2 separate regions of the Homo sapiens genome follow, and region 1 is linked to region 2. The links come from fine-mapping of genetic effects on gene expression. Tissue or cell type: whole blood. Region 2 holds a variant in brackets; the other region holds the start of a gene. All regions are shown on one strand. Distances are between the middles of the regions.

Region 1 (2,759 bases), 75 kb before region 2:
CATAAGAAAATGAATTCCTTTCGTTTTAGCTCCTCTCTTTATTTCAGCAGTGCGTTGTCAACAGGGCCACATTATGTTAGCAGATTTGAACTTTATCCGAAAGGTGTTTGTATTTTATTTCAAATTATGAATTCCTGAACATCGGATTATGTACGATTCTGCAGTGCCCTCGGAGGCCCATTAGAGTCTGGAGCTCGAGAAGCATAACAAACTCTGGTCTGATATTTGTAAGGAGCTTGACAGCCAAGGAGCCACTCAGAAACAGTTATTGGTATTGCCAAAAAAAAAAAAAAAAAAGGAAGCTAAGAAGTCACCCTTCTAAATAAATAAATAAATAAATAAATAAATAAAAACCTGAATTGGAGAGCTGCCTGCATTTCACTCTACTGCCTCTGGAAGAAGAGTGTTATCTAAAGTGCTTCCATCATGAATAATGATTGAGAAACTGCTTTTACTCTCCCGACTACTGTACTCCCAGGCAGAAACCCACGGCTGAAGCCCACGATGCCCATGTGTAACTTGGTTATTACACACACGTTTGGAGCCCAGTGTGCAGACCCGCAGCGCAGAGGAGGCGGCGGAACACCCCGGGTTGGTCGGGTTTCCAAGGGCTGACCCGAGCTCCAGCACTTTTTCCGCGCCTGATTTTTCAGGTCATTTTCGAATGGGCTATCTTTGCTTACATTTTGAGCTTGGATCCTCTCCAGAAAGCATTACTACCTTCTAAAAGGAAAAACATCTCGTATTTGCAGACAGTGCTGAGGGAGCAAAGTTCATTTTCTCGGGTAGGAGAAGATGATTCTCTTGCAACACGTGCGGATTGTGACAAAATCTTTCATTAACAAGGGGAGTTTCGGTGAAGTGGAGGTTTGGGGAAAGGCGAGGAAGTCGGTCTGGAGCAAGCAAGCAAAGTGCGGAAGCTGTACTGGGATTCTTCTAGAAAGTGGGGTGGGAAAGGAGCTAGGGAGGGCGTGTGGAGGGACGAGATCTGTGTCAGAACGTGCGTGTGAGCGGATACAAAACCCGAGAGAGGCGTGAGCAGCGCTGTGTTTGCGAGCGGGAGCGAGGGGCGCCGGCTGGGGTGTGTGCTCCTGGTGAGTGACACCGAGGGGAAGGCGGGCGGGTCGGCGGGCGGGGGCAGCCTGCGAGGGGCGGGAGTGTCCCTGCGTGGGGCGGCCGAGCCGGAGTTGTGTCAGTGAAGGAATCCAGTCCGGGGGCCGAGCTGGCTGCGCCCTCCGCTGCAAGCGCCGGCAGCGCGGGGCGAGCTCCGGACGGCGCGCGGCCCAGGCAGCGGCTCCCGCTCGGCCCGCCCTCCGAGCCGCAGGGGCCGCCACCGCCGCGGCGCCTCCCCTGGCGACCGCGCCCCCGGGCCCCGGCTCCGGCCCGGGACGGAGGAGCCGGCGCTCGACACAGAGGTAAGCCCAGGACCCCCTCCACGCCGGGCCGGCTGGGGATGCAGGGCGCGGGCGGACGCGGAGGGGCCTGCGCGGCCGGGACGGAGACTCGGCTGGGCCGAGCATTCCGCAGCCCGGGCCGCCCAGCCTCCGCCGCCTCCCGGAGCGCTGGGTGTGGCCCGCGCTCGGCGCCGAGGCGGGCTGGTGGCGCGGACCGGACGCGAAGGTCGCCGTCCTTCCTTTCTCCAGCCGGCGCGGGCAAGCGGGAGGAGGCGCCGGCTGGGACGCACAGTGGCGCTCCCCGGGCGAGCGTGTGGCCGCCGCGCTCCGACGTGTACCCGCCCGCCCCGGATCTGAATCGCCCGCGGCCGCCGTCCCTCGCCTGCCGTCCTCCCGCGCGGGCGCCCCCGTTCCCTCCCAAGCCGGAAAGAGACCCACCGTCCCCCAGGCTGCTCTCTGGCCCGGAGCCGCAAAGCCCACGTCAGCCGCGACCACCCCGCCCTCGGATCCCAGCCGGGTGCGGGGGCCGCGGCCCCACTGAACCCCGCGCCCCTGGCGCCCAGCGGGAGTGGGATGCGTTGGCGTCCGCGCTGCGCGGGTGGGCTGGGGTGGCCGGAGCAGACGCGGAGCGCCCTGGCCGCGGGACGAAGCGGTCGCGCCGCCGCATTTGGGCGGGGGGACCCCGGAGTCCGCGGGCTGCGGACCCCAGCGGGAGACGGGGTTGTCGTAGGATGCGCTCGCGCTGGACGCCGGCGCACTCTGAATATCATGCTGCCGCACACGCGGGGCTGAAGGGCCGAGTCTTCACCTGCGCGGGGATGCGGCGGAAGCGTCGCGTCTTCGCGAGTGGAGGTTTCGTGTTCCCGCGGGGTTGGTGTGTTTTTGAACTTCACGAGCTTCTCATCCCCCCCGCAATCCTGGTTTTAGCAGATGTCGGGGTTTTGGAGACCTGACACTTTTCGTGAAAGATTCTTTCTGTACGTTTTCTTTTGGCTATATTACAGGGTTTGTAGCTTGAGAACTAGTGAAAACCCTTGAACTTCAAACACAGTCTCATTGCTTATTTTTTGAAATTTAAATATTAAAATATGTACCAGCCCCCTCACAAGCCGACAGACTTTAAGACAAACGACTGTGAAATTTTAGAACCTGTGCAGAGAAAGTGGTTTTATACCAGTACTTGAAATAGTAAGGTCGTGTAACCTTTTTAACATCGTTTTAGTTTGTCTTAAAGGAAGGTTTCAGCACCACTTTGACTGGTACTGTTTTCCAGAGTTTAAGCAGATGTATGTAATATAGCAGGGAAGAGGACAGGAAGTCAGAAATCTCTTCACTCTGAAAAAAAAAAAAGACTTCAAATAATAC
Region 2 (2,759 bases):
ATTTCAAATTAAATAGAAAAACCATGCCGTAGGTGAATGCTAATAAAGCCTGCCGTGCGTCCTCCTCCCCCTGTGCTTGCACTGCCTCAGATCCGCTGCATTTATTTTAGCTGTCCTTTGCTCTTTTGTGCCCATTTGCATTCTGCTGCTGTGAGGAGGTGGTTTGGCACTTTATGCAAAAATGGTTAATCTTCATTCATAAGCATTTGCCAGTACTAAAATGGAAAATTCAAAGCTGGGACTGCCATAAAGTGTGTTTTGTGTTCTGCTCTGCCGTGTACGTGCAGCATATACAACAGTGTGCGCCACGCAGATGACTCTGCCTGCCATACAAGCACTCAGCACTCGGGGCTGTTGAGTGAAGAGGTTCTCCCATGAAGGTCTCAAACTTGCATGAGCACATCTTGCCCTAGATCTGCTCAAGTGATATTCTAAGTGATTGGAAGCTTTTATCTGCCTCTGAAAGCAGGCCTTTTCAAATAAGTATTGACTGTTAATGACCTGTTTAAATAAAACATTCAATTTTCTTTCTTCCCCCCACAAAGAACTTAGTAGGCAGTGACATTTCTAAACCAAAGGCTAACCCTGCTTTTCAAAAGAGGCCAAGCCAGAGCTTTTAAATGTGAAATTTTTTTCTGACATTTGCCCTTAAAATGCTTTTCAGTGAAGTTGTTCTAACAGTGGGTTGAGTACATTGAAATGTCTTTGAATGAAAATGCAACCTTGAGTTTTTTTCTCCAAATTAAACAAAAAATGCCAATCTAAGTATATTCATATGAAATTCATATTTCAGTCACCACCCTGTTTCATTGTTTATGTTTCTCAGTCCTAATAATTAAAGCGACTTTCCTCTAAGGAACAAGAACTTTTATTAAACTATGGAAATTAAACCACAGAAACAAAGAGCAAAAACACTTGAAATATAAGAGACCTGAGTCATTACCATGCCAGATAAGGAGTAGCAAAGGATGGAGGGAAAAGGAGGAGGGGACAAAACGGAAGAGAAATTAGGCAATTTAACAGTTAGGCCACAGAAAACATACCTAGTACTAAGTTTAGACCAAATCTC[A/G]GTTTTGAAGAAGGAGCATTTGTTTCCCTCTTCAGCTGGCATGCAAGTGCCCCTGATTGTGCTTAGGGCCCTGGATGGTTAGTCTCTGGTTTAAAAGTGACCTGTACAGAGAAATAGCCTACTACTGTACATCATTGGAGACAGCACCCACGCCTTTTATAAGTGTTTCCATCAACTCCCAGTGCCTGTACAAACCTGTAGTACCTGAGAGCCAAAAGAGACCACAGAGTTCATTTCCTCCAACCTGGAGATCTGAGGCCCTCGTGCCACAGTGTGGCCTGTCAGGATGAATGATGCCCTTTATAGACAGATGTGAAGTTCTTCCAACTCTCCCTATCGAAGGGTACCTGTCTTGTTTCCCATCCTGTCAGAGCACTGCTGTCTGCTAAGGGCCAATTGACGGCAGTAGGAGAATGAAATAAATTAGTCTGTGATAGTGCGCCTTCTTCCAGAGGTAATATATTGCATGCCTTCAACTAAGTAGAAATGCATATGTCTCTTGAGAAGCCATACTCAGAGATACTGTTGGATGCTGTTTTGCCTGAGAGATTTTTGCTGCTTCTCAAATCACATGGCATAATTGACTTCCTACGCACAAAATCAGTGCTGATTCTTCCCCTCTGAGGCAGCCATGAGAAAATGTCTTAGGATCTACGTGATCATAGTGATGCAGGATTTTTGAATAGCATTGTCTAGGCTATACCAAAGTCAGGTACACAGACACTTTAATTACTCTTAGTAATTAAGTTAGTAATTCAGTTAGTTATGCCTTTAGACCCCAGAATGTCACAGAGCCACTGGGCTGCATCACAGCTCGCAAGAAACAATTTGTTGGCTGAGGGCCCACTAACTGCAACTCTTTGCACCTTCACCTGAGGTAGGAAGCTGCAGGAAAACAGCCGTTTTTTGGTGGGGTCGGGGTTGTGGTGAATGGAGTCACTCTGTCACCCAGGCTGGAGTGCAGTGACATGATCTTAGCTCACTGCAACTTCCGCCCCACCTACCGGGTTCAAGCAATTCTCCTGTCTCAGCCCCACCCCATCCCCCTCCCCAGTACCTGGGACTACAAACACACGCCATCATGCCCAGCTAATTTTTGTATTTTTAGTAGAGACGAGGTTTTGTCATACTGATCAGGCTGGTCTCGAACTCCTGACCTTAGGTGATCCACCCGCCTCGGCCTCCCAAAATGCTGGGATTATAGGAGTGAGCCATCTCACCCAGCCAAAAATAGCCATTTCTTTGAAACAAGTTCATTTATGCCCATTCCTGTGTGAGTGGAGTGGTTTCGCACTGCAGTTTGTGCATCCTGCAAATGCGCAAGGCATATACTGTGGGCCTGTCTGGCCTGAGAAGGCAGGTCCCGTGGAACGGTTTTATTCCCCTGGTGGAGTTCTTACTGCATTTCATAGACAGTGAGCCCTGTGACTTGTTTATGATGGTTTTGAGGTGCTGTTAGCCCAATGGCCGTGGGCTTGCTGAGTTGGACTGCCTTAGGTTTGAGTCCTGGCCCTGCCACTTAACTGTGGGACCTTGAGCAGTTACTAGATCTCTTTGTGCTTCAGTTTCCACGTATGTAAAAATGGGGATAATCTTAATTTCTATTCGTAGGGTTGTGACGGTAAAATGAAAAAAAATGTATGTCAAGCACTTAGCAGAGTGTCTGGTACGTTATAAGTTCTCCAGAAGT

What was found. PIP is the estimated chance that this variant, and not a neighbour inherited with it, causes the effect.
Region 1: it holds the start of SPATS2L, and the variant in region 2 is fine-mapped to the expression of SPATS2L in whole blood (INTERVAL, PIP 0.91).

Annotation. Positions count from the first base shown.
Region 1 is chr2:200,305,508-200,308,266 of GRCh38, forward strand. It overlaps SPATS2L (spermatogenesis associated serine rich 2 like), which reads left to right and starts at 1,186. Exons shown (of 13, transcript NM_001100423.2): 1 at 1,186-1,415. RefSeq lists an enhancer at 561-660 and silencers at 1,071-1,800, 1,821-2,150.
Region 2 is chr2:200,380,080-200,382,838 of GRCh38, forward strand. The region is part of intron 2 of SPATS2L (spermatogenesis associated serine rich 2 like); the gene reads left to right. Among named protein-coding and RNA genes, the nearest start is that of SPATS2L, 75 kb to the left of the region's middle. The variant A/G (reference allele first, on the strand shown) is at 1,070.